4 linked regions of the Homo sapiens genome follow. The protein of the gene in region 3 purifies or fractionates together with the protein of the main gene of each other region. This does not show direct contact. Each region holds a gene or a part of one and is shown on either strand. Other genes may lie near its edges. The genes, in order: COPG2, NUDCD1, COPA and G3BP1.

Region 1 (7,034 bases), on a different chromosome or scaffold from region 3:
GTGGAATACAGTAGATATAGGTATGGAAAAAATACTGAACTTACCAAACAAACAGTAATTCAAGTTGGATCATTGCCTAAAATGTAAAATCTAAAACCATAAAGCATTTAGCCTAAAGCATGAGAAAACAAGTAGATAAAGGTTTCTTAGGGAACAGTAATAACTATGAAAGAAAAAAATTGATAAATTAGACTTCATAAAAATTTAAAACTTCTGCTTCTCAAATGATACCGTTAAGAAAATAAATAGGCAGCCAACAGACTGGGAGAAAATATGATCATGTTTAAACTCTTACCTTGAACTCATCTGAGATTTCAGACACAAAAGAAGATATCTGCTTCATGAGCCGGTCCACACTGCTCTCACTTCCTGTTTTGAGGAGTGTAGTAATGGCTAAGGTAGCAATGCTTCTGTTTGAGTCTGTGATTAAGTTTTCTAAGTCCAGATTGCAGGCAGTAACAGCAGAGGGGTGCTTCATTGCCACCTTGTGGAAGGGCAAGAAAAAAAATTAAGCAAATTGCTTTTGATAAAGGCCAGAACTTAAATTTTAATTGAGGTAAGTGGCAATCCAAAGAGGACAGGATAAGTTAAAAGTAATTGCTTCAAAAACAAAAAGAATGGCTCCAGTTAACAAGGTATATCTTTTAATAAATGATCAACGGCCAGAGTATAGCATCGTACTCTCTTTTGTTAGGTTCCTCTAACCTTTCTAACATTACCATTTTTAAAAAATTATAATTGGCCTGTATTTCCTTATAGTACGTGTGTTCATATACGTCTATTCTATTAGATGTTAGGAGTACTGACAACAGGATCTAGCATAGTAGTCAGTGCTCGACAAAGACTGTTAATATCTTATCAGTTAAAAAATACTGCTGCATTTCAAGACGCAAACTCCAGCCAAACTGCATTATCTATGGTTACTACATGGTCTGCCATTCTCCTGCATCCTTGTTTTTGTTGATGTTGTCCCACCTCTTTGTCTATCCCAATATTGGTATGGAATCCCTTACCCACAATTTGGAAAATCTGAAAACACTCTGGAAAGCAGAGCACTGGGATGAAAATCCATTTAACAGCAAAACATGACCCAAACTAATGCGAAACTCTTTAATTCTTAATTTATACCACTTGACAAGGATAGTCATATGTTTTGTGCAAAAATATTAATGTTTTTTAATGGTGGGATGCTGCCCCAGGCCCACTGGGGTTAGTAAATAAGAGATAACACCATATAACCTTTCTAAAATTTAACTAAAAGCAAATTCTGAGACACATCTGGCCCCAAGATTAGAGATGAGGGATTGTAGACCTGTATCAACTCTTTAAAAACAATTTAGGCCAGGCTTGGTGGCTCATACCTGCAATCCCAGCACTCTGGGAGGCCGAGGTGGGCAGATCACCTGAGGTCACGAGTTTGAGAGCAGCCTGGCCAACATGGCGAAACCCTGTCTCTACTAAAAATACAAAAATTAGCCGGACGTGGTGGCAGGTGCCTGTGATCCCTGCTATTTGGGAGGCTGAGGCATGAGAATCGCTTGAACCTGGGAGGCGGAGGTTGCAGTGTGCCAAGATCGTGCCACTGCACTCTAGCCTGGGAGACAAAGTGAGACTCTGTCTCCAAAAAAAATAAATAAATAAAAAACCATTTAAATTGTTGTTCTATAAAGGTTTCTTCCATGGCTGCTCTAAACTTCTCTTTTCTTCGACTGTTTACACAATTAATTTATAATTATGTATTGCCTATGACAAGTCTTCTATTACATTTAACTTTCATTTACATTTTCTATGCTTATTTAATTTATTCTGTGTTTCTGTATTATATCCTCTAAATCTATACTGTCTAATAACATAGCCAACAGCAACATGTGACTACCAGGCATTTGAAAGGTGGCTAATCCAAACTGAGTATGCTGTAAATGTAAATATACTGGATGTCAAAAACTTGAGATATGTAAAAATATCTATTACATGTTGAGATGACATATTATATGTATTATGATAAAATATACTATTAAAATTAATTTTACCTTAAAAATTTTAATGTGGTTATTATGAAATTTAATATTACATATGTGATTCACAGTGGGTTTCTACTGGACAGGGCTGCTGTAGACCAGCACTGTGCAAGAGAACTTTCTTCAATGACAGAAATGTTCAAGATCTGCACTGTCCAACAGCCACTGACCACATGTGGCTGTGAGTACAAGAAGTGTGACTCATGTGACTGAGGGTTGAATTTTTTATTTTAATTAATTTAAATTGAAATAGCCACTGGTGGCTAATGGCCACCATATTGGACAGTGTGGCTCTTGAATATAAAATGCTTAGAAGTCAGAAATGAGTTATAATCTTCAGCTAAATAATAATAAAAATGAGCATACTCAAGGCCACAAATACAAGTGAAGTGTTGTAGAGGTGAAGCCCATAAATCACATATACTAACCTTGGAGAGAAAACCAAATGCTTCACATTTAATGTTTCTCAATTAAATACTGATATAAGTCAATAATTAGCAAAGAAACACCTACCTTGTTCAAGGTCCTCACAGCTGCATATCTCAAGGCTGGCTTAGGAGAACTACAGAAAAGTTGAAGAACTAAAAAAAAATAATAATAATAATATGTAACATTAAGTAATATTACATATACATACCGTGAATACTCCTGGCTTAAGAGAACTATAGAAAAGTTGAAGAAGTAAAATACAGATATAGATACAGTGACTATTACCTATATATGCTGTGAATATTCCTTATCTCATCATATACCATATAGCTGAAAATATAGTACATAATGAATCACATTCAAAATATGCATACATTTTATCACAGCATCAAAAATTTACATGAAAAATGTAACATCAAAATAGAAAAAGCACTTTTGGGGCGCCTGTAGTCCCAGCTACTCGGGAGGCTGAGGCAGAAGCATGGCGTGAACCCAGGAGGCAGAGCTTGCAGTGAGCCGAGCTATCGTGCCACTGCACTCCTGCCTCAGTGACAGAGTGAGACTCCGTCTCAAAAAAAAAAAAAAAAAAGAAAAAAAAAAAAGAAAAAGCACTTTTGGTCAGTTATAAAAACTTAAATAAGAAACAAAGTTTGCTCTTTTTAAAAAAAAATTAGAATACCCATTAATACCTGAACTAAATGGTAGAAATATTGACAGTTCTGAAAACAAATGGGCTTTTTAAACACCAAGGAAAACTGTAAAATGTTTTCAAAAGTTTCATACGAGGAAACAGAAACTTTAAAAAAAAGCAATAAAGAACTATTATTAATAAACTATGTACATATAAATAAAATTCTTTCAAAAGTTTTATATGGAGAAATAGAAACATTAAAAAAAGTAATAAAGTAAGGAACAACTAAAATAAACTATCTACATATAAGCTATCAGAATGCAAAGGCTATATATACACAGAGCTAGTGTTCAGAAAACATTCTTAATACCTATTCTGTAGACCTATGAAACTTAAAGCAAAAACTTAGGAACATAAAAGCCAGCCATCAAATATAAAACAAACCTGAAACAGCAGGTGCCAACTCTCTTGCAGTGCAGTTAGGAAGATGGATGATAGCTGAAGCAGCTTCATAAATAACCATTTCATGTTTATTTCGCAAGCAGCTCTCAATGAAATCAAACAGTGGACTTTCATGGCTGCCAATAAATATTTATAGGCCATTATTTAGATATCAAATAGAGAGGCAATATGCATAGGGATTAAAAGCACAGGCAGATTGAGAGGCACTTCTGGAATGGTGGATGAGGGATTTCTAAAAATTCATTTCATCACAAAGCAATTAGAACACTGGCAAAATTGTCAAAATCAACTTTTGCAGAACTCTAAAAAATTAATCAAAGATTTGCAACAATCCTGAACATCTATTTAAGAAAAGTAGCTGAATCTTAGTAAAAATGGTGAAGTTTCTGGTGTTTTAACCTACTCATTCTCAATTTCCATGCACCTCTTCCCAGTTCCATAGCAGTCTTGGAAACCAGCAGCCTCAGAACCACAGTAACTGTGAATGCCAGCAGCCTAGCTACAAAAGCAGCTCTGGGCCAAAATCTCATCCCCAGAGAACTGTCACTATGTGACCTGTCTGGTGCTCCTAGAAAAGCCCTATTCACAGGCTAATCTTTACTTCACCTGACTCAAGAGCTCATTCAGCATGAAAAGCCCTATGCCCAGGGAGTTTGTCCAAAAAAATCAGTAGTATTTGGTTAATCTTGCAGCTGCCAGAAGCAGCAATTTTAGCAGGGGCAAACAAGAGGCTGGCCAAAAAACTTAAAAGGAAAATTTGAGAAATGAGATGTCCTTAGGGGGCTTTGAAAATTTCTAAAATATTTCTGGGGATACAGAAGGTCATGTGCATGTGCAGGGCTAAGCAAACAGCCACTAAAGACCTGACAGAGCTCCGCTCTCTAACCTTTGCTTGACTCTGAGGCTCTGCACAAAGCAGGAAGTGAAGGCTAAGGCAGAGCTGTGAACTCCCGGGGCATGGAAAGCACGCCCCAACATACACAGCACCCGTTGGAAAATGATGGGAGACATACTGGTTTAAAGCATTTAAGAAAATCTGTCAAATTATTATTTGTGACTCAGCTAATCAAACAAAGACTTCAGTGTCTATACAAGATACAGAATAAAGACTACAGAAATAGTCCAGGAAGGTCACAAACAACAACAAAAACAACAAACCCCAGGGATAGGGAAAGGGAAGGTCTGATTACCAGTGTTGTCACATTATAATATTTAAAATATAATGTTTCTGACAAAATAATTATGAGACACACAAAGAAATACTTAACTATGACCCATCTATGGGGGAAAAAAAGTAGTCAATAGAATTTATTCCTGAGGAAGCCCAGATGTTGAACTTACTGGCAAAAACTTTAAGTCAGCTAATATAAATATGTTCAAAGAACTAAAGGAAACTAAAATATTTAATTTAAAGGGAAGTACAACAAGATGTCTTATGAGACTACCAATAAAGTGACAGAAATGATTTTTTTTTTTAAGAAACCAAATAGAAATTCTAGATTTGCAAAGTGCAATGACTGGAATGAAAAATTCACCAGAAAAAGTTCAATAGCAGACTTGCACAGGCAGATGAAAGAATAAGAAAACTTGTAGATCTACTGAGATAAACCAGCTGATGAAAATAAAAAAAGAAGGAAGAAAAATGAACAGTGCTTTGGAGACCTGTGTAACATGACCAAGGGTACCAACATTTTGGATGATAGGAGTTTTCATAGGAAAAGAGAGACACAAAGGGGAAAAAGAACATAAGAAGAAACCATGGCTGAAAACCTCATAAGTTTGATTTAGAAAAAACATTAATTTATGTACCCAAGAGGCTCAAAAAGTCTCAAGCAGAATAAATACAAAAATATTCAAATATATACACATCAGAGTGAAACTGTTGAAAGCATAAAAATAGTCATTCTGACTGGTGTGAAATTGTATCTCATTGTGGTTTCGATTTGCATTTCTCTAATGATTAGTGATGTTGACCATTTTTTCATATGCTTGGTACCATCTTGTACCAGTCAGAATAGCTATTATTAAAAAGTCAAAAAGTAACAGATGCTGGTGAGGTTGCAGAGAAAAGGGAATGCTTACACACTGCTGTTGGGAATGCAAATTAGTTCAGCCACTGTGGAAAGCAGTTTGGAGATTTCTCAAAGACCTCAGAACTACCATTCAATCCAGCAATCCCATTACTAAATACGAACCCGAAGGAATATGAATTGTTCTTCTTAGGTTTTGATGAGAAGGCGAGGATTAAAGAAAGACTGAGAGAGAGTTGGCGGCTCTACAGCAATGCAGGTTTTATGTCCAGCATAAGACCTGCAGAGGCGGGGCACCAGCTTAATGCCAGGGCCCACCTCTGCTTACAGGCTGGGGCAATTTTAGGCCTGGGAGGGAGGGGTCTGAGGGTTATGGCTTGCTGCCCGGGAGGATGTTGATAAGATGTTCCCATGATGAGGTGGTTTGGCCCTTGTTCTGGCAGGATGTGACAGTGATGTTCCTTGGACTTTTTCCCAGCAGAATGTGATAAGAAAGTCAGGCAGTCGGGCAGGATGTTTCTCACGGCCCAGTCCCCCAAGGAATGTTTCACTTTGATCAAGGTCTATGAAATGACAAGGGGCTTACAAAATGGTACAGTTTGGACTAACAGTTCTACCATAAAGACACAGGCCCTCCTATGTTCACTGCACCACTACACACAATAGCAAAGACATGGAATCAACCTAGATACCCAACAACAGTGGACTGGATGAAGAAAACGTAGTACATATACACCATGGAATACTATGCAGCCATAAAAATGAATGAGATTATGTCCATTGCAGCAACATCGATAGAGCTGGAGGCCATTATCCTAAGCAAATTAACACAGGGACAGAAAACCAAATACTGCATGTTTTCACTTATAAGGGAAGCTAAACATTGAGTGCACATGGTCACAAAGAAGGGAACAATAGGCACTGGAGCCTACTTGAGGGTGTAGGGTGGGAGAGGATGAGGATAAAAAAACTACCAACTGGGTGGTACCAAGAAGTTTGAGATTATGCTAAATGACCAAACCTAAGAATAACTGGTGTTCCCAAGGAAGAAGATAAATCTAAAAGTTTGGAAAACTTATTTGAAGGAATAATCAAGGAAAACTTCCCCGGCCTTGCAAGAGACCTAGACATCCAAATACAAGAAGCTCAAAGAACAGCCAGAAAATTCATCACAAAAAGATCATCACCTATGCATTTAGTCATCAGATTATCTAAAGTCAAGATGAAGGAAAGAATCTTAAGAGCTGTGAGGCACAAGCATCAGGTAAGCTATAAAGGAAAACCTACCAGATTAACAGCAGATTTCTCAGCAGAAACCCTACAAACTAGAAGGGACTGGGGTCCTATCGATAGCCTCCTTAAAAAAAATAATTATCAGCCAAGAATTTTGTATCCAGTGAAACTAAGCTTCATAAATGAAGGAAAGATAAAGTTCTTTTCAGATAAACAGATGCTGAGAGAATT
Region 2 (7,383 bases), on a different chromosome or scaffold from region 3:
ATCCCAGCACTTTGGGAGGCCGAGGCAGGTGGATCGCGAGGTCAGGAGTTCAAGACCAGCTTGGCCAAGATAGTAAAACTCCGTCTCTAATACAAAAATTAGCTGGGCTTGGTGGCGGGCACTTGTAATCCCAGCTACTCCAGAGGCTGGGGCAGAGAACTGCTTGAACCCGGGAGGCGGAAGTTGCAGTGAGCTGAGATCGCGCCACTGCACTCCAGCCTCAACGACAGAGACTCCGTCTCAAAAAACAAAACAAAAACAAAAAGAAACAAACAAAAATTAGCTGGGCATGGTGGCGGGCGCCTGTAATCCCAACTACTCGGGAGGCTGAGGCAGGAGAATCGCCTGAACCCGGAAGGCAGAGGTTGCAATGAGACGAGATCACACTACTACAGTCCAGCCTCCGCAATAGAGCAAGACTCAGACTCAAAAAAAAAAAAAAAAAAAAAAATCTTCAAATGGCACCTGATATCCTGCAGCTGTACATCCCAAACACAGAATCTAAGATTAACGCTGATGAAATGAGTACGGAACAAGGACAACTTTGTGAATTTTTTCTAAAGTTAAAGTATTCAATGGATTGTTTATTGTGAGATTTTGCTTCCTGCTTTTTTGGTGTTAAAATATCCTTTTGTTTATGAAAAGATAGATGAGTAAATGATAGTTTTTAAGAAACATCTCCACCTAGTAAACAGAAAAGTTGGCAGAACTACAGCAGCTGAGTTTTATTTTATATTGTAATGGCTCAATACAAAAATGTCAGGGAAACACTGAATGACCGGAAATCCAAGAAATCCAAAAGGCAAACAAGGCCCTCACTGATTTATTTCCTCTCACTTTCCCAGACGTTTTGCTCCAGCAATATAAGAGTGCAAGGATGTCCAGCATACAACCTACTAATTATTTCCCTTTCCTCATGCTTTCCCATGAATGGAATGACCTCAACAATTTCTTCTCTTCTTCATATACTCATTTTATTGAATACATCCTATGTGCCAAGCACTAGATATAGGGTAGTGAACAAAAGAAAAACATCACTGTTTTCAAGGAACTCATAGTCTAGTGGAGGAAACAGACAACAAATCAAGATAGAATTTAAAAGGCCGATAAGTACGTCTTATGGAGAATGCAATGACGAAGCCCAAAAGTGAAGGCAGGAAGGCTAGTCAGGAGGCTACTAGAGTTCAGGTAAGAGATAACTCTGATTTGGATTAGGGTGGAGGCCTAGAGATATCAAAATGTGGAGCTGACCGGACTTGCTACCAAGCAGACAGTGGCTAAAAGAAATAAACCCCAAATGACTCTGGCACAAGTGTCTCTTGGTACCAACCTGGGCTAGTCTAGTCGGCTAAAGGATAAGAGACCACACGGAGAAAAGTCAAGAGGAGACCATGTGAAAGAATCTTAAACAAGCTTATAGTCTGAGACCCTACCCCCACCCTCCAAACATATGAGGAAGTCCAGCCAAATGAGCAGAGCTTCCCAGCAGATCCATTACTGAACAAGGATGCATCAATGAGCCCAACTAGGACTAGAAGAACCACTCAGCTGACCCGTAGACTTGTGAGCAATAATAACTGCTTCTTGTTTTGAGACACTGAATTTTGGCTTCACTTTCTAATGCACTAACTAAACATGGTGATACCATCTACTGACATGGGGTGACTGGAAGAAACACGGTGGCAAAGAGGAAAAGGAAAAAAATAAAAAGAAAAATCAAGCTTATCCTCTCTCATCCTAGTCAACTCTTAACCTACCCTTCAAAGCTCAACTTAGATATTAACTCCTCCAAGACGCCTTCCCAGATCCCCAGACTAGTTTAGGAAAGATATTCAAGTACTACCATTGTATTTTGTACATATCCCTATCACTGCCTTCCCATATTGTTTTACAATTATCTGTTTACAATTTTCTTCCTAACTAGCTAATAGTCCTCTTTTGTTACGGAAGGTGTCTTGTTCATTTTGATATTATCAGGACGTAACACAAAACAGGTACTCGGTAAATATTTCTGAATTTAATAAATCAATTAGCATAAACTTATTTTATACTTTAATGTCTGTTATTATAATTAACTGTAGATCACTATTTCTCAAAGTGTGATCTCTGAAAACATGCATCAGAATCAGCAGGGGTGTGAATTTTAAAATGCAGATCTCTGGGCTCTATCATAACGAAAATGCCGTTAAGTTGTAAAAACAAGAGTAAGGATATTCTACCAGCTACAGATAAAGCAAGGAGTAGCAGTGTGGGAGTAAATCCACTTTTCCTCACTATCTTCTAGAGATGTTCTCTACCAGAGTTCTTAATGTGCCAGGAACTGAGTAATTAAAAATGCTATGACTGGAATGTAGTTTCTCTTCTAAGAAACGGCTCTCGGTCAGAGGAAACAGGAACTGGGGGTCCTCCAAGGAGGTGTGGTTTCTCAACGCACACGTTCACAAGCGATGCTCCAGGAGGAAGGAATGTTCTCAGCGTCCCCCGAAACAGAAGCCAGGCTGTGGACACACAGCAGCCAGAGCCCCAGGCACTACCCGCACGCCAGCCCTCAGACCTCAGACCTCAGAGGCTGGGCTGCTGACGGAGGGGGCCCAGGGTCCCGTTACCGAAGAGCGCGCGAAGGCGGCTCCCACCGGGTTCTGGGATGGGCATCATTCCCCAGAAGCAGCGGCCTCCGTGAGTCCACGCAAGCCGCCACGGTGGCTTCGCTTGCCAGTCAGAAAGAAAGAAATTGCGGGAAGGGTCAGGCCGGAGGCAGCCGAAAGGGGAAAGGAACGGAGTACGAAGGGCGCCGCCGCTTCCCACCTGCGTCAAGCTCCAGCTGGTAACAAGGCAGCGGCTCAAGAGAGAGCTTGTAACCCTCGAAGCGGGGATCCAACAGAGGTCTCTTCACCCGTAGGGAGCAATTAGCCGCCACCTCCATCGCTTTCCAGGGCCGCAGCGTGAGAATTAATAAAGCCCTTGTTGAAAGGTCCGCGCTTCACGCCTCGCACAGAGACTGGGAAGCGGCGTGGTTCCCATCCCAGAAAACACTGCGGTGCGAACTGCCTTCTGGGAAATGTAGTGTCCGTGAAAAAGTTGAGACTGTTGCATGCTGGGCTATGTAGTTCTCCTGGTACTTAACGCGCGCGCGACGGCAAGGTCTGAACTCTGTTACCCAGAGGCCCTAGCAACCAGGAGGCGGCCCGCGCTGGTTAAATTCTCACATTATAGGCAGGGTGGCGAGACCCCGCCCCGGAAATGCGTGTTCTAGCTTTCTGTGTGCTTAGGTGCCCGAGCTACTGAGGGTCTAAGTCCGGGCAGCCGAAGAGTGTGGTAGGTAACGGTCCTCAGCGCAAGGGTCATTTCGTCGCTGGGAAGGGACGGCCCTCGCCCGCGGTGATGGTGGTGAGCTATGCCCGTGGTCCTCAGGGCCGGGACCCGGGCCCAGCCCAGGCTCCTTTCGATGTACTGTCTTTCGTTAGCGTCCCCGACCCGCGCTCGCGGGCCTGTAGGGCTCTCCGACAGGGCGTGCTACCGGAGTTGGCCTGAAACCAGTCCTCGCTTTGTTTTCTGGCTCCTCCTCTCCCGCCTCTCCCGCTGTCTCCGCCCTGTTCTATTTTCCCTAAGAATGTCTGAACTGGGAGGGATACCCTAGCGCCCTTGTTTTACCAGTGAGAAAACTGAGGCCTTTAAGAATTAAGTGACTTGTCCAAGGTCACTATCCGTATTTTAGGAGCCAAGACGAGATCAAGTTCAATATTCCAGGAGTGGTACTGACTAGACCTTGTAGTTATTTTGAAAATGTTAGCCTCCAATTACAAAAGCAAGCATTTCCTAGTTCTCACTCAACTTCTCCTTTTCCCTGTTCCTCTCAAAAAAGAAAAAAAAAATCAACTCTGGTAACTCATTGCCAGTCTGAATTTTCAATAGGCCAGATGGAAGACAACAAAAGTAATCTCAAGTTAGTGACAGATTAGGTGGGAAAACGTTAGTTTACGCCAAGTTTTATTTAATTTAAACTTTTAAGTGGCTTTAACGCTTTCAAAACCTAACTTTCCTCTTCTTTCAACATCATTTTGGTTTGGGTTGTCTGTTTTTACTGACAATTGAGGACTTTGTAAGTTAGGAATTAGTTTGAGATTTGTTTTCTTCTTATCCCACCAGCAGTGTGTGTGTAAACACACACATCCACACACTTAGGTTTAGCAGTTGTAATTGTGGGTTCATCCTAGTGAAGAGTAAAGCAAAACACTTAGAGCCTTATCTAGTAATTTTATTTTTTTTGATTAATTAATTTTTTTTTTTTTTTTTGAGACAGAGTCTTGCCCTGTCACCCAGGCTGGAGTGCAGCAGCGCAATGTCGGCTCACTGCAACCTCTGTCTCCTGGGTTCAAGCGATTCTCCTGCCTCAGCCTCCTGAGTAGCTGGGATTACAGACACCTGCCACCAAGCCCAGCTTATTTTTCTATTTTTAGTAGAGACGGGGTTTCACCATCTTGGTCAGGCTGGTCTTGAACTCCTGACCTCGTGATCCACCTGCCTGGGCCTCCCAAAGTGCTGGGATTACAGGTGTGACCCACTGTGCCCGGCCTGGTAATTTTATTTTTTTACTAATAGTATTTAATCTTTTTTTGATGTTTAGTATGTATGACTTCTCCCAATTTTTGGATGCAGTCTCTGCAGAAGTGATCGGCAGTTATGTTCAGTTTTGGAGCTCCTAGGGTCAAAGTACTTGAGTTCAAATTTTGCCTTTCCACTTTCTATCTCTGTGCCTCAGTTTCCTCATCAGTAAAATACAGATTATTTTATTAATATAAATATGTAACAATACGTTCTGGGAATTAAATGTGATGTTTAAAAAAAAGCAAACCCACACTGCATTAGCCCAGTGCCAAGCACATAAGTGTTTAATAAAGAGTAATGATATTATTAACACACTTGAAATGTATCACCCCTTCAGTTAATAGAATGGTAAACATGTTAGGATGCCTGCCTAGAGGATTTAGCAGAAAATGCTTTGTAAATGTTCTATATCTGAAAGTACATGTTGATGTCCAGGTTAGCAAGATGAACAAAGATGCGCAGATGAGAGCAGCGATTAACCAAAAGTTGATAGAAACTGGAGAAAGAGAACGGTAAGTAATAGATTGTGTTAATAAATTACATTTCACCGCCTTTAATAGTTAGCTTGTAAGAATCTAAACAAGAAATGAAACATGTCACTGGAAAGAATTACAATTGAGATTATAAAAGTTTCTATTCCGAACATCTGGAAAAAATAATTTAGGTTTGTTAAGTATTGCAGGACTTGGAGGGAAGTGGTGATGTAGAAAGATGAGCAAGATATGGCTCTTAAAGAGTAATTTGATGGAGAAGAAAAAGTACATACCTGAATTACAACTGGAGACATAATGTTACCTGGGTTTTAACAGGGAGACAATGTTGTGGAACCAGCTTCATTTACCAAGCTCTCAACCTTGGAGCAGCAAGTGCTGTTTCCACTCTCTAAAACATTCTTCCTTCTCTTCCTTTTTAGCTAATTCTAGCTCAACTATCAGGTCTAATTTATATATTGTCTCTTCAAGGAATGTTTTTAAGTCCCAAATACCTTGTTCCATCATAGCATTTAATCAACATTGTGTTCTAACAATCTACTTGGCTAGTTTGTATCCTCCAGTATAATCTAAGTTCTTTAACACCAAAAACAACATTGTATACCCAGCATCTAATGCTTTGTTTGGTTCATAATTGGCCACGTAAATATTTGCAGAATCAACAGGTTTAGAAGTACAAAGAAGGGGCTGAGGAATCAAGAAAGGCTCCCAGAGGCAGGGTTATAAAGTGAGTAAGACAAATATGTATAAGGAAGAGGCAAATATGTATAAGGAAGAGGGGGAATCTTTCAACTCAACCCGGGCATTCAGGTGATCATGTAAGATCTCACACAATAAGAAAAAGAGGTGCATCTGTTGCTGACTTTATTTTTGGATGATGGGAGTCATTTAAAGTTTTAAGAAAGGAAATGACTAGATCACATTTACACTTTAGGAATCTTACTCTGTTGGTGTGGAGCTTGGACTTGAAGGGGACAAGATAGATGGCAGAAAAATGAGGTAGAAGATTATATAGGGTTGAAAATGGAAAACTCCAAAAATTGGAAGGAGACCTTAGAATTTTAATAAAATGTAGAAACAGCAACCCTCAAAATGAGGAAGGAGGCATCGATAACTGCCTTGGGTAGCTTTAGAGGATAGTACTGCTGGTAAGGAGTACGGATTGTATGTTGTTTTTTTTTTTTGTTGTTTGTTTTTGATTCATGCAGCTTCAAGTTACTGAGTTTCTATCATATGCCATGCCCTGTTAAGGTGTTGGAGGTAACAGTAGTAGACAAAAATGGAGACTTTGTTTTCACAGAGCTTGCATTCTAATGGGAGGAGACAGATAAAACTGTGTAATAATGTCAGATGGTGATGAGCACTAGAGGAACAATAAAGCAGAAAATAAAGAGGTGTAATATTTTAGATAGAAAAAACAAAGAAGAAATCAGAAGGAGGCCGTGCATAGTGGCTCACGCCTGTAATCCCAGCACTTTGGGAGGCTGAGGCTGGCAGATCACAAGGTCAGGAGATTGAGACTATCCTGGCTAACATGGTGAAACCCCATCTCTACTGAAAATACAAAAATTAGCCATGCATGGTGATGGGCTGTAGTCCCAGCTACTCAGGAGGCTGAGGCAGGTGAATCGCTTGAACTCGGGAGGCGGAGGTTGCGGTGAGCTGAGATCGCGCCACTTCACTCCAGCCTGGGTGATAAGAGTGAAACTCCGTCTCAAAAAAAAAAAAATCAGAAGGATATGAGGGTGAGCAGGGACTCTTTAAGTTCCTGAGATAGGAGCTTGCCTTTCATTTTTGAGGAGCACAGGGATGCTAGGGAGACTGAGTAAATTGGGTGAGGGAGAGTGGAGATTAAGTCAGTGGCATAGCTGGGGAGAAGGCAGATCATGAAGGATCATGTAGGCTGTAATAAAGTCTTGGAGTTTTATTCTGAGTAAATTGGGAAGGCACTGGAGGTTTTTGAGCAGCAGGAGAAGAACTAAGTGTACAAGGGAAGAAGCAGGGAGACAACCTAGAATGCTATGGTAATATTCTAGAGAAGAGATGATGGCTTGAACTAGAGTAGTAATGGCGGAGATAGTGAGAAAGGTGAATTCTAGGTATATGTTTTAAATTGAACCCAATAGGATTTGCTCATAAATTGGATGTGTAGTGTTAACAAGGCAGCTGAGTGGAAGGATACTACAGAGATTCCTAGTCTGAGGAACCAGAAGAATGGAATTGCCATTCTCAGAAGAAGAACAAACAGGATGAATTGGTAGAAAATCAAAAGTTGGATTTTGGCCCT
Region 3 (7,034 bases):
TAATTATTTCCATCTCTGTATCCAAAGGGGTCCTATGTGTTCACTGGATTTTCTTTTTTTTTTTTTCTTTTTTTTGAGGCGGAGTCTCGCTCTTGTTGCCCAGGCTGGAGTGCAATGGCATGATCTCGGCTCACTGCAACCTCCGCCTCCTGGGTCCAAGCGATTCTCCTGCCTCAGCTTCCCGAGTAGGTGGGACTACAGGCGTGCACCATGATTCCCAGCTAATTTTTTTTGTATTTTTAGTAGAGACAGGGTTTCACCATGTTGGCCAGGATGGTCTCGAGCTCTTGACCTCGGGATCCGCCTGCCTTGGCCTCCCAAAGTGCTGGGATTACAGATGTGAGCCACCGCACCCAGCCGATTTTCAATGGAATTAGACTAAAAGCTAGGAGTAATTGAAAGTATAGGAAGTTCTTCAGGAAATCTATATAGATGCAGATGCTTTGCAGAGTCCTTGGTTTTGAGTCACATTGTCCTTCAACCTGTTAACACGACCCTGGGGATTCTTTAGATTGCTCTGGAAGCAGCCAAAGCACTGGATGACAAGAACTGCTGGGAAAAGCTGGGAGAAGTGGCCCTGCTGCAGGGGAACCACCAGATTGTGGAAATGTGCTATCAGCGTACCAAAAACTTTGACAAACTTTCCTTCCTGTATCTTATCACTGGCAACTTAGAAAAACTTCGCAAGATGATGAAGATTGGTGAGGCCCTCAAACTAAGGATGGGAAGAGGGGTTCTTGGGGGAAGGAGGAAGGTGAATTAAGGAGAAAGAGAACTTAAGAGAAAAGACCTAACTTGGTGTCTCTTACTTGGTGCAGCTGAGATCAGAAAGGACATGAGTGGCCACTATCAGAATGCCCTATACCTGGGTGATGTGTCAGAGCGTGTGCGGATCCTGAAGAACTGTGGACAGAGTAAGTATCCGAGACTTGCCAGCTTTTTCAGGGTCTGAGGAAGTATTTTTCTGTTTTTGTTGAGTTAATCTGTGTATAGTGGTGAGGGATTTCTCTTTATTGTGCATTTTTTTAGGAGAGACAACATGCTCCTACTGTGCTTAGAAGATTTTCTTCAAAGCCAAAGGGAGGTGCAGCCAGAATATTCAGTCCAGCCAAACACCCTTAGGAGAATAGTTATTCATGGGGGAGATAGGAGGTTTTAAAAGGTCTTGAGTGGACGCCCTAGTAAATGCACTTGGTTGGATGCCATTAGAATTTTATTCTTTATTTTCAGTTTGGAGGTTTCACTCATTTATTCATGTATATAGTCAAGGGATATTTTTTGAGAACCCACTATATACCAAGCATTATATTAGCATTTAAGATACATTAGGAAACAAGCAAGGTGAAAGATGAGGTTTGGACCAAGGCGCTATTAGTGGAGGGGTGAGCAGTGGTCAGATTCAGGATATATTTTAAGGTAGAAACAACATGATTTATTGCGGTAACTAGATTTGAGATGTAACAGAGAGGAGTCAGGGATATCCAAGGTTCTCAGCACGGATGGATACGTCTCAAAGATAAGCAGCTATATTAGTTCTCTATTTCTGTGTAACAAATTATCCCCAAATTTAGTAGTTTAAAACCACAAACATTTATTATTTCACAATTTGTGGCATGGCTTAGCTAGGTGCCTCCGGCTTAGGATCTCTCATGAGGCTACAGTCAAAGTGTTGGCCAGAACTGCAGATATCTGAAGACTCACCGGGGAGAGAATCTACTTCTGCACTCACTCAATGGCCATTGGCAGCCCCCATGTCCTTGCTCCCTGTTGTCTAAGAAACATCACTTTCTTTTCGTGTTGACCTCTCCATAGGAGTTTGTAACGTGGTAGCTAGTTTCCCTTACAGCAAGTGAGCAAAAGAGGGCACCCCAAGATAGAAGCCACAATCTTTGTAACCAGATCTAGGAAGTAACATCCCATCACATCTGCCATGTTCCATCCATTAGAAGCTATTTAATAAATCCAGCCCACACTTAAGAGGTGGGTATTTTGCAACAACTTGAATACCAGGAGTCAGGGATTACTGGGGGGCCATTTCAGAGGTTGCTTACCACAGCAGCATGCATTTGGAAATGTACCTATACCACAAAGTCTGTTTTCTCTACAGAGTCCCTGGCCTATCTCACAGCTGCTACCCATGGCTTAGATGAAGAAGCTGAGAGCCTAAAGGAGACATTTGACCCAGAGAAGGAGACAGTGAGTCTTTATTTACATAATTGTCTCTTATTACAGGATTAACTCTAGGATCTTAGAACAATTTAAAATTATGAATGTCACTCTCCCACCTGGTTACCAGGAGAGGCAGAGAAACAAATGAGATCAAAGGAGGCTCCATAACTTTCCTTACGTGACTTCCAAGTGCTATTTGTTTTTAGCCTCTTTTCTTCTACTATTCAGATCCCAGACATTGACCCTAATGCCAAGCTGCTCCAGCCACCTGCACCTATCATGCCATTGGATACCAATTGGCCTTTATTGACTGTATCCAAAGGATTTTTTGAAGGCACCATTGCCAGCAAAGGTAAGTACCTATTTCTCCCATAGCACTTTTGTTGTTTGTTTTGTGAAGAACTGTCCTAGAGAATACCATTAGCATTTAGTTTAACTTGTCCTTTTTTTCTGCATGGAGCCTAATGGAATATTGAAATGCCAGTCATTTATGGTGCAGTCTTAAAAACTTAAGATAGCATTTTCAGGTCATTAAAGAAAATTTGGAAAATAGGGAGAAAAAAAGGGATCCCTCTACTACCATCAATAACTTCGGTTAATATTTTGGTGTATTTTCTTAGGTTTTACTATATATGTAGTCATGTTCTTTGTTCAGTATTTTATCATTCATGACATACAATCTTAAAGGTACTAATTCAACTACCTGTAATTCCGGTATGTGGGTATAGGCAGATGTGTGCTATCACCCTCCACCACTTCCACCCTTAACCTCCTCCTGTTTTCTGGGTCTCCTAGTTCATTTCCCGTGAGTAAGAGCCTAAACAGACTCTTGAGCATTTTGTGCCAAACCCCACTCTTTTCTCCACCTCCTCTATCTACCCTATGCCTGATGCCCTGTACACATTGTAGTGGTGGTAGCTTAGCAAAGCGCTCAGGAAGAAATTCAAGAGTTGGTAGCCAAAGGCTGGTAAGTACAAATTATTTAAGAGCCAGTTTTTGGTAGCAGGAAGGCCAGTTCCTTCCATCTGTCTTCTATTCCCTCCCTCTGTGAAAGCTACTGCAAGTTAGCATAACATATATACCACAAAAATAAATAATACACAAAAATAAATAGTAAGTAGGCAGAAGCTTGGCACCTGTTTTTGAAAGGATTTAACCTGCCTACAGAAAAGGCCGTATCTCAGACTTGCTGGACTATAACCAGTTCCGTTCTGTTCCTTCCCTCTGTAGGGAAGGGAGGAGCACTGGCTGCTGACATTGACATTGACACTGTTGGTACAGAGGGCTGGGGAGAGGATGCAGAGCTGCAGTTGGATGAAGGTAAAAGTGCTGTTTTAAGACTGTTCTGGGGTGATGGACACCTTGGATTGGGACTGGGTTGTGGGTAGCTCTGCAGACTTCCAGGCCATGAAACGAACTAGGATTGATTTTACTTCCTTTGGCTAAGATTATGCCACTGCCCAAATCTGTTTTGAGCTTGAATTTTCCTTACAGATGGGTTTGTGGAGGCTACAGAAGGTTTGGGGGATGATGCTCTTGGCAAGGGACAGGAAGAAGGAGGTGGCTGGGATGTAGAAGAAGATCTGGAGCTCCCTCCTGAGCTGGTATGTGGAATTTGTACCCTTAGAAGGTTCTCTCCGTATCTCCCTGTGGAAGCCAGAGGCCTTATTGTCCCCTACCACTATCCTCAGGTCTCCTATCCTATCCCCTACCACTATCCTAAGGTCAGCCCTTCTGGGAAGGGGACTAGACCCTCCTAGTCTGATGCTTATCTCCCATTTGAAAGAAGGAAGATGGCTGGGCACGGTGACTCATGCCTGTAATCCCAGCACTTTGGGAGGCTAAGGCAGGACAATTGCTTGAGCCCAGGAGTTCAAGACCAGCCTGGGCACCATAGCAAGACCCTGTCTCTATTTTAAAAAGTAAAAGAAGCAGGAAGAACGAGAGAGTCAAAGTTAGTGGCCTTGTCACTTCCATCTATCCTGATATGCTCCAAGAGGAGAGGATGTAGGACTTATCTCTAATCTGATGCTTAACTCCCATTTGAAAGAAAGAAGAATGAGGTAATCAGCGTTCTGCCAGCAGCAGCTTATGAGAAGGTAGCAAGCTGTTTCATCTGAATTGGAGTTTTTGATATGTCATTTTGTCACTGGTGAGGTGGCTCCTATTTTGGCAGCCTTCTCCCACAACTATCACCCCTCTTCCTCAGTGGGGGCAGGGAACAATGTAAATGGTTGTGTTCTAGATTCAACAGAACAAAGTGCTTGAATGGCTTAAAAAATTACTCAATTTGGCTGGGCACAGTGGCTCACGCCTGTAATGCTAGCACTTTGGGAGGCTGAGCCAGGCAGATCACTTGAACTCAGGAGTTGGAGACCAGCCTGGGCAACATGGCAAAACCCCATCTCTACAAAAAAATACAAAAATTAGCCAGGTGTGGTGACTCATGCCTGCAGTCCCAGCTACTCGGGAAGCTGAGGTTGGAGGATTGCTTGAGCATGGGAGGCAGAGGTTGCAGTGTGCCGAGATCATGCCTCTGTACTCCAGTCTAGGTGACAGAGTGTGACCCTGTCTCAAAAAAAAAAAAAAAATTACTCAATACTCAATTTTTGTTTTTCCCCTAGGATATATCCCCTGGGGCAGCTGGTGGGGCTGAAGATGGTTTCTTTGTGCCCCCAACCAAGGGAACAAGTCCAACTCAGGTAAGCGGGAAGAAACCTAGCACGGCAGGGATGAGTGGCTAATACTTGATTGGTATATAACAGGTGTTGGCTACTTTTCTACTATAGTTACAGAGGAGAATAGAGAAGGGACAAAGTTTCACTTGGCTTGGGTTTTTTTGTTTCTTGTTAGATCTGGTGTAATAACTCTCAGCTTCCAGTTGATCACATCCTGGCAGGCTCTTTCGAAACAGCCATGCGGGTAAGTAACCTTGGCTTTTCCTCTTGAGTGTGCCTAGCCCAGGGTCCCCGGGAGATGGTTGACTCATTTTAATCAAGGGAAATTATCCTACCCATAAGGGGAAAGGTGTATATTTTTCATGAAAACTCTTTATCTTTGTTAAGTACACTTGCCTTCCTGTTATCTGCCTTCCACTTGGCCTAGTAATCTCTTAGGGCATATCCTTCAGTCATCTTCCACCCATTTATAGCTTGCTTTCTGGCTCATATCAGTGAGATAAGTACCCCTTTCCAAGCAGAGGTCTGTTTTGAACACTAAGCCAGTATTGTTATAATAACAACAATAATGATAACACTGCAATAACTGCTAACGTTTATTTAATGTTCACTGTGTGCCAGGCACTATCCTAAATACTTTAATAGGTATCATTAAATGAGGTAGGTCTTACAATTAAGTGTATTTTACTGATGAGGAAACGTGAACAGAGAAATTAATTACCTTGCCCAAGGAAAAGTAGCTTTTTATGCAGCAGGGCCAAAATCCTTGTTTCTTTCCTTCTGTTCCAGCTCCTTCATGACCAAGTAGGGGTAATCCAGTTTGGCCCCTACAAGCAACTGTTCCTACAGACATACGCCCGAGGCCGCACAACCTATCAGGCTCTGCCCTGCCTACCCTCCATGTATGGCTATCCTAATCGCAACTGGTAAGGCCCTTTTCTCTTTGCTTTCATCTGTTCCAAGTTGTGGTCGATATTTCAGATGGTAGCCTCAGTGACATAGTCAGAATTCTCTCAGAGCTAGGGTTTCCCAGTAGAAAAAGATCTTTGGTTTGTTACTCTATGGGGTTGGTTTACACCTGCTGTCATCCTCTTCCCCAGCTACTTTAACAGGAGACAGGAGGGTAGCTATGAGGATGTTTGCCAGAAAAGGAAATTGGGTCCTAGTTGCCTACTGACTATCCTGTCTTCTTCCTACTTTTCCCTTTCCAGGAAGGATGCAGGGCTGAAGAATGGTGTACCAGCTGTGGGCCTGAAGCTTAATGACCTCATCCAACGGTTGCAGCTGTGCTACCAGCTCACCACAGTTGGCAAATTTGAGGAGGCTGTGGAAAAATTCCGTTCCATCCTTCTCAGTGTGCCACTTCTTGTTGTGGACAATAAACAAGAGATTGCAGAGGTAGGAGGGTCTAGCCGCTGTCCCAGTTCTGGGCACTTCCACATTCTTGTCTCTGTATCCTGACCTTCTGCCCCCTCTACAGGCCCAGCAGCTCATCACCATTTGCCGTGAGTACATTGTGGGTTTGTCCGTGGAGACAGAAAGGAAGAAGCTGCCCAAAGAGACTCTAGAACAGCAGAAGCGCATCTGTGAGGTAAGATCTATAGGACCCTGAGCACAACAGAGACGTCCTTCCCTTCACCCTTCACTAGGTTTGAATTCTTTAATTTCAAACCCAGATCTGAGTGGGGATGAAGAGAAATTTAGGCCCTTCATTTCTATGAGGGGAGGATACATTTCTTCATCCTACTTCCTCATCTCACCAGTCCTCCATACCTAGGAGGTAGAAGACCTCTCAGCTTTATAGCCCATCATCCTATTTTGTGTTGTGTTTTTTATGCATGTGTAGCAGCTTAGAAATGACTTCTACCAGGTGTAGCATCAACCTGGCATGTGTTCCTTTTTCTGTCCACCAGATGGCAGCCTATTTCACCCACTCAAACCTGCAGCCTGTGCACATGATCCTGGTGCTGCGTACAGCCCTCAATCTGTTCTTCAAGCTCAAGAACTTCAAGACAGCTGCCACCTTTGCTCGGCGCCTACTAGAACTCGGGCCCAAGCCTGAGGTGGCCCAACAGGTAGATGGAACTCCTTCAGTGACCATAGGGAAGCCAGATCAGCTCTTACATGGAGGGAGCAGACCAAGGTCCTTGCCTCTGAAACAAAGCAATAAATAACAACATTCAACAA
Region 4 (7,034 bases), on a different chromosome or scaffold from region 3:
TTTATATCAATTTATGCCCGATCTCTAATTAAATAGGTCTCTGTCCACTTCATATTCCCTCAAAGCATTTAATACCTCAATACATTCAACTCTTGATAAACAATATGCAAGTTTTCACTTAACACCAAGAAAAAACTAAACCAAAAAGAAACTGATACTATTTAAACTAAGCAATAGTAGATTGCCTTCATAGTACAATTTACTATTAACAAACAAGTTACATATTTTTGTTTAGTCAAAATTACCAGAAACAAAACCATTCTTCTGAGAAATTATTATTTTGAGGTAATTCTCAGAATATGTAAATGCCCTCCAACAAAGGGAAAGACTAGACAATGCAAGTTCTTATGCAGCCCCGGACATGTGAACAAAATCTTCTTACCTGACAACTGCCTGATCATAGAAAGTTCCAGAATCATCAGGTACCACCTCAGGTGTTTGCTGTCTTTCTTCAGGTTCCTCTACTTCTTCTTCAGACTCTAAGTGAGAAAAAGATATTTAAAGTAATTTGTACTTACTGAATTCACATATACATTAACTTTCGCAATGTTCACAAAACAACAGTGAAGAAAAACATATATAAATAAACAAAGTAGGACAATTTGGTAAAATCATGGCACTGACTTTAAGGACAGAACTAAGGCTTTGAAGAACAGACTTTTTTTTGTTTTTTGTTTTTTGAGACGGAGTCTCGCTCTCTCGCCCAGGCTAGAGAGTGCAGTGGCGCGATCTCGGCTCATTGAAAGCCCCACCTCCTGGGTTCACGCCATTCTCCTGCCTCAGTCTCCCGAATAGCTAGGACTAAGGCGCCTGCCACCACGCCTGGCTAATTTTTTGTATTTTTAGTAGAGATGGGGTTTCACCATGTTAGCCAGGATGGCCTCGATCTCCTGACCTCGTGATCTGCCCGCCTGGGCCTCCCAAAGTGCTGGAATTACAGGCGTGAGCCACCGCGCCCAGCCTTAAGGATAGACTTTAAGGCTACTGTAGTGTCTTGGTTTTTAAGAGCATGGAGCCTAATGCAGGCTCTGTCACCTTACTGGCTACGTGACATTAGCCAAATTATATTAGGCAGTTATCTAATGCAGGCTCTACCACTTTACTAGGCAAATGATTGCTTATCTGTAAAACTGTATTACAAAATAAATATACTCTCAGCCATATAAACAACACTCAATTCTACTATTTTGGAGAAAATTTTCCATAAGTCTCTGTGTCTACACATCTTCCATGCCTACCCTTTCTTCTAGACTGTCTTTCAAGAACATTTATATAGCAAACAGCTTTGAAAGAGTATCTCCCTCCAGCACAAAGAGTAGTCATGTTTACTGCCTGTTGTAATAGATCTGGGTTCCCTAAACTCAGTGTCCCATGCCTTTAACACAACCCACTGCAGTAGAAGTATCACCTAGCCTTCTCCATGACATCCTATTGGTAAATGTGGCAAAAATACTACTACTGTCGCTGTGAGTTAGCCTGTCTCCTTCTGACCTAAGAGTCTTATGTCTTCTACTAACATCCATGATATAAGCTAACCTGTTAGCAGCTTCAAGTAGGGTAAAACCTCAGACTCTTCATATACCATAATTAGTTATTAATGAAGAACAGAGTGTAATGAAAACAGTAAAGAAACCCATAGTCTCTTAAGGGCAATCGGATGCCATTAAAAAAAATTTAGACAAGTAATTTAAAGTATTTCACTACTTACCCTCCTGAGGCTCAGTGACAAACCCACCAAAGACCTCATCTTGGTATCTGAAGATATCATTGTGAACATAGAATTTATTTGCAACAGACCCCTGCAATGCCAACAGAAAGTTTTAATTTATTCAACAGACTTTTAGAAAGTCAAATCACTCTACACCATTGGTGACTGGGACAAGTCTGCCTCCATGAGACATCTGGCAATATCTGGAGACATTTCAGTTTTTGTTGTTGTGGGGTTCTGAGACAGGGTCTTGCTGTCAGCCAGGTGGGAATGCAGTGAGCCACCACAGCTCACTGCAGCCTTGACATTCCAGGCTCAAGCAATCCTCCTGCCTCAGCCTCCTAAGTAGCTAGAACTACAGGGGCGCGCCACCATGCAAGGCTAATTTCTCTTTTTTCTTTTTTTTTTTTTTTTTTTTGAGTAGAGACGGGATCTTGTTATATTGCCCGGATTGGTCTTTAATTCCTGGGCTCAAGTGGTCCTCCCGCCTCAGCATCCCAAAGTTCTGAATTATGGGTATGAGCCAGCATGCCCTGCTGACATTTCAGTATTCACTACATGGAATGCTACTGACAACTTATAAGGTTAGGGATGCTGCTAAATTCCTACAATGCACAGGACAGGCTCCCACAACAAAGAATTAGTTAATCCAAAATGTCAACAGTGCCAAGACTGAAAATGCCCACTCTACAATAGCCGGTAAAAAGACTACACTCACATACATTTTGTTTGCTCAGAACACTTTACCTCACCACAAGATAAATATCCAAAAACTGACAAAGCCCTAAGCATGTAAATGCCACAGCCCACACCTCAAAACATTATAAGGCAATCATATCCCGGATGGGCACAGTGGCTCATGCCTGCAATCCCAGCACTTTGGGAGGCCGAGGCAGGCAGATCACCTAAGGTCAGGAGTTCAAGACCAGCCTGGCCAATATGGTGAAACCCCATCTCTACTAAAAATACAAAAATGAGACAGGCATAATGGCCCACACCTGTAGTCCCAGCTGCTAGGGAGGCTGAGGCGGGAGGATTGCTTGAACCCGGGAGGTGGAGGGTGCAGTAAGCCCAGACTGCACCTCTGCACTCCAGCCTGGGCGACAGAGTAAGACCTTGTCTCAAAAAAAAAGGCAATCATATTCCTAACTTCAGCAGATATTTAAAATTCCCCAAGTCTGTCTCCAAAAATATTGATATAAACACTCAAGGGTAGTGCAGCCTGAAAAAGATTGCTCGCAGTAGGTATAAGACACACCTGAGTGCAGATCCAATTATATATTATGAGTTATTCAGTTTCTAAGGCTGTTACTCCTCTGTAAAAAGAAAGGTACCAGCTAGGCACAGTGGCTCACTCCTGAAATCCCAACACTTTGGAGAGCTGAGGTAGGAGAACTGCTTAAGCCCAGGAGTTTGAGACTAGCCTGGGCAACAGTGAGTTTTTTGTAGAGTGAGTCTCCACAAAAGCAGAAACAAAAATCAGCCAGGAATGGTGGCCTGCACTTGTGGTCCCAGCTACTTAGGAGGCTCAGGTGGGATTATCATTTCAGCCCAGGCAGTCAAGGCTGCAGTAAGTCATGATCCTACCACTGCACTCCAGCCTGGGTAACACAGGGAGACTCTTCTCTCAAAAAACAAAAAAGAAAGATATCAACATATACCTCAATACTCTCTGTATTAAATGAGACAGTTTATATAATAGTGTATTATACTAAGAAGTTAGATACTTCCTTTAAAAGAAAAAAACTGTAATTAAACCTGTAATTCACAATCATACTCCATGTGATTCTTTGCATATTTAGAAGTCTACCACATCTTTACATTTTAATCTAAGCCTTCCTCTAAAAATTATGACTATAATTGGCTTCATGTAATTTTGCACAGACAAAAAGTTATCTCATATTCAAAGGTTAAAAGATTTTAGGCGTTTCAGGTTTGCTATCCTAAAAAGAAAACTTAAGATTAATGCTAGAGAAAACAATGATTTAATCAACAATTTCTTACTATGCCATTTCTATATACATGCTTAAGCAGACAGGATTCCTAACCTTGTTCAGTCTAGACCAATCCGGAAGAAAACACAAATGCAATCATTCAACATAAACTTGTCGTCCTTTCATAAGTATAACTAAAAAGAACCAGGCCTCCTTGAAGGAACAGCTGATTCAAGAATAGGGACTGGGCCAGGAACAGTGCAAGATGAACCTGGAAAATATTTTGCCATAAGTGTTCAAGAAAGATAAAAAGATAGAGAATCTCCCATCCTTCATTTACAAATCAAAAAGAGAAAAAATAAGGCTGGGCATGGTGGCTCACACCTGTAATCCCACTTTCGGAGGCTGAGGCAGGCAGATCACTTGAGGTCAGGAGTTAGAGACCAGCCTGACGAATATGGTGAAACCCCATCACTACTAAAAATACTAAAATCAGCCGAGTACGGTAGCACACGCCTATAGTCCCAGCTACTCGGGAGGCTGAGTCAGGAGGACAGCCTGAAACCAGGAGGCGGAGGTTGCAGTGGGCAGAGATGGAGCCACTGCACTCCAGCCTGGACGATACAGTGAGACTCCGTCTCAAAAAAAAAGAGAGAGAGAGAAAAGATATTTAACTTTACAGTGGCAAAACCTAACTAATCAAAATTCATATCACAACTAAATGACATAATATGCCTAATGTGAAGCACTGAATGACACCCATAAAGCATCCTACAAAAAAAGTGTGCTCTTCAAAAATGTCAATGCAATAAAAAAAAACAAAAGATTAAGGAACAAGTGCAGATTAGAAGAGACTAGAGACATGATAGCTAAATGCAATGTGTAATTATAGATTCCATGTTGGACAAGGAAAAAAAATTACTGTTAAGACATTATTGAGATAATTTCCAAATTTTAAAAATGGATTATAGATTATATTGCATCAACATTTCCTGAATTTGATAACTGTACTACAGAATGGAAGAGAATTATTCTTAGGAAATGCCCACTAAACTATTTTAGAGAAAGAATTATACACATGTGGGCAAGTGGTGACAGCTGCTCTAGGTAAGGAGTATATAGGAGTTAGTGTACTATTATTCCAAGTTTTCTGTAAGTCTGAAATTTCAAGTGTTTTTAAAGATATGCACAACAGTTCATTGTTTCTTTTTTCATGTATTGGATCACTACAAAATAATCATTCCTACACATACCTCAGGAGCAAGGACAAACGTTTGCATGAATCTCCTCAAAGCCTGGTTGTTGTTAGAGAGAAGCCCCATCACCTGGACTACCACACCATCATTTAGCGTGGCATGAGCATCAACATGGCGAATCTTGGTGTGGCAGTTGGTGAAGTTTTGTGACATCACTTTCCTGTGGATTTCCTTAAAAAAATAATAATAATAATAATAATCAACTGAGAATGCCTTAAAATTTAAATAACCTCCAACTAAAAAAAACCTTCCAACACAACACAAAGAGAATGTGTATATTTAAATTACAGGATATGCAGACTGAATTTTGATGTTTCTTTGTATACTCTATTCCCAGTGACCGCGCTTGAGTTTTTTAAATAACTGTCCTGAATTAACACACTTTTCAAAGTTTAGAAAAGATGATCCCCATGCTAAAGCCAATTATCTTCCAACACACAAAAGCTTTAGAATATATCATACAAAATTAACAAATCTGACATCACATAAGTATTTCAACAAATATATTAATCAAATAGTAATAAAACACATCAACTTTTACTAAAAAGTTGAGAAACTGGATCTTTATCAGCAAATCTATTAAGTATGATCCACTTCAATTTTATGAGTTATTTTCTACCTGCTTAACAGCCTAAATAAGGCTTGAAATGCTTACTTTCTGTCCGTAGACTGCATCTGCTGGCTTTCCATTTGAATCCAATCCCCCATGGACATAAGAAGAGTTCTTTCCATAAAATCTGTAAAATGGGAAGATGATTTACTTGTCATCTTCAAGTATCTTAAGTTTATTTTTCACGTCTGATACTGGCAAACTTTTTTTTTTTTTTTTGCAACGGGGTCTCATTCTGTCACCCAGGCTGGAGTGCAGTGATGCAATCATAGCTCATTGCAGCTTCGATGTGCCGGGGCTATGATCTTTGATGTGCACATTTTTTTTTTTTTTTTTTTTGCTCTTGCTGACCAGGCTGGAGTGCAATGGCACCTCAGCTTCCCAAAGTAGCTGGAACTACAGTCACATGCCACCATGCCTGGCTGATTATTTTTATTTAAGTAGAGATAAGGTCAACTATGTTGCCCAGGCTGGTCTCGAACTCAAACTCAAGCAATTCTACCTGCCTTGGCCTCCCAAAGTGCTGGAATTGTAGGTGTGAGTCACCGCGCCTGGCCCTGGCAGAAACGTTTTCTTTTTCATCTTTGTATGCAATCATCTCTGTATCCCCTACATGCCACTTGATCAACATTTGCTGAATGGGAATGGATTTGGTTCCAGGTTTCAGTGTAGGATGATACTGTTGGGAAGGATCTTGTAGTTTCATGTCAAGATGGCCACCAATACATAAGTTCCTATTTTCACTCAGGAAGAAAATGTGCGGTAAGGCTGGAACAGCTATCTTCTTCATAGACTTCAAGTGTCCTTTTATTAATGTATCTGAGAATAAGCGTGAGCGGTTCCCCTTAAACACCTAGTTCATGCAAGTGGTTTTAGAAGTACTTTTTAACTATTTCTGCTGATGCAATTAAGAATGTCAAAGTCAATTCCTCATGGTTTTCACCCATCTATGTCCTCCTTTGATCCATTTTCATTAAAACAATATTCTACCAGGAAAGCAACACACCAAAATGCTCTAATCCAGGGATAACCACTATTAAGATTTGACATTTGTCTTCCAGATAAATACATTTTTTTTTTTAAGACAGAGTCTTGTGCTGTTGCTCAGGCTGGAGTGCCATGGCGCAATCTTAGCTCACTGCAACCTCCGCCTTTTTTTGTATTTTTAGTATAGAGAGAAGGCTTTGCCATATTGGCCAGGCTGGTCTTGAACTCCTGACCTCAAGTGATCCGCCCACCTCAGCCTCTCAAAGTGCTAGAATTACAGGCATAAGCCACCATGCCTGGCCTATGCTTTTTTCTTTTTGTTATGTTTTATGTCAGTTTTATTCTATGGGGTAGAAAGAAATTAACCAAATATAAAAATACAAAAAAAGGCTGGGCACGGTGGCTCACGCCTGTAATCCCAACACTTTGGGAGGCCAAGGTGGGCGGATCACCTGAAGTCGGAAGTTCGAGACCAGCCTGACCAACACAGGGAAACCGTCTCCACCAAAAACACAAAATTAGCCAGGCATGGTGGCGCA

Evidence for each region.
Region 1: the proteins of COPA (region 3) and COPG2 fractionate together in Homo sapiens (co-fractionation; 4 studies listed by BioGRID and IntAct, with this or other methods). This does not show direct contact.
Region 2: the proteins of COPA (region 3) and NUDCD1 purify together in Homo sapiens (co-immunoprecipitation; 3 studies listed by BioGRID and IntAct, with this or other methods). This does not show direct contact.
Region 4: the proteins of COPA (region 3) and G3BP1 purify together in Homo sapiens (affinity purification with mass spectrometry; 2 studies listed by BioGRID and IntAct, with this or other methods). This does not show direct contact.

What each region holds. Positions count from the first base shown.
Region 1 is NC_000007.14:130,560,738-130,567,771, forward strand, and holds part of COPG2 (coatomer subunit gamma-2), read right to left. Parts: intron 3,657-7,034; coding exon 3,523-3,656; intron 2,600-3,522; coding exon 2,532-2,599; intron 485-2,531; coding exon 296-484; intron 1-295. UniProt on the Homo sapiens protein: The coatomer is a cytosolic protein complex that binds to dilysine motifs and reversibly associates with Golgi non-clathrin-coated vesicles, which further mediate biosynthetic protein transport from the ER, via the Golgi up to the trans Golgi network.
Region 2 is NC_000008.11:109,331,088-109,338,470, forward strand, and holds the start of NUDCD1 (nudC domain-containing protein 1), read right to left. Parts: upstream 3,001-7,383; 5' UTR 2,924-3,000; coding exon 2,806-2,923; intron 1-2,805. Other genes in the region: transcription and mRNA export factor ENY2, read left to right, coding at 3,382-3,387, 5,041-5,117.
Region 3 is NC_000001.11:160,291,223-160,298,256, reverse strand, and holds part of COPA (coatomer subunit alpha), read left to right. Parts: intron 1-511; coding exon 512-701; intron 702-818; coding exon 819-914; intron 915-2,107; coding exon 2,108-2,196; intron 2,197-2,397; coding exon 2,398-2,521; intron 2,522-3,399; coding exon 3,400-3,489; intron 3,490-3,663; coding exon 3,664-3,773; intron 3,774-4,793; coding exon 4,794-4,871; intron 4,872-5,022; coding exon 5,023-5,091; intron 5,092-5,430; exon of another isoform or gene 5,431-5,636; coding exon 5,637-5,773; exon of another isoform or gene 5,774-6,058; coding exon 6,059-6,245; exon of another isoform or gene 6,246-6,327; coding exon 6,328-6,438; exon of another isoform or gene 6,439-6,760; coding exon 6,761-6,922; exon of another isoform or gene 6,923-7,000; intron 7,001-7,034. UniProt on the Homo sapiens protein: The coatomer is a cytosolic protein complex that binds to dilysine motifs and reversibly associates with Golgi non-clathrin-coated vesicles, which further mediate biosynthetic protein transport from the ER, via the Golgi up to the trans Golgi network.
Region 4 is NC_000005.10:151,788,924-151,795,957, reverse strand, and holds part of G3BP1 (ras GTPase-activating protein-binding protein 1), read right to left. Parts: intron 5,636-7,034; coding exon 5,554-5,635; intron 5,070-5,553; coding exon 4,896-5,069; intron 1,800-4,895; coding exon 1,709-1,799; intron 480-1,708; coding exon 383-479; intron 1-382. UniProt on the Homo sapiens protein: Protein involved in various processes, such as stress granule formation and innate immunity. Plays an essential role in stress granule formation.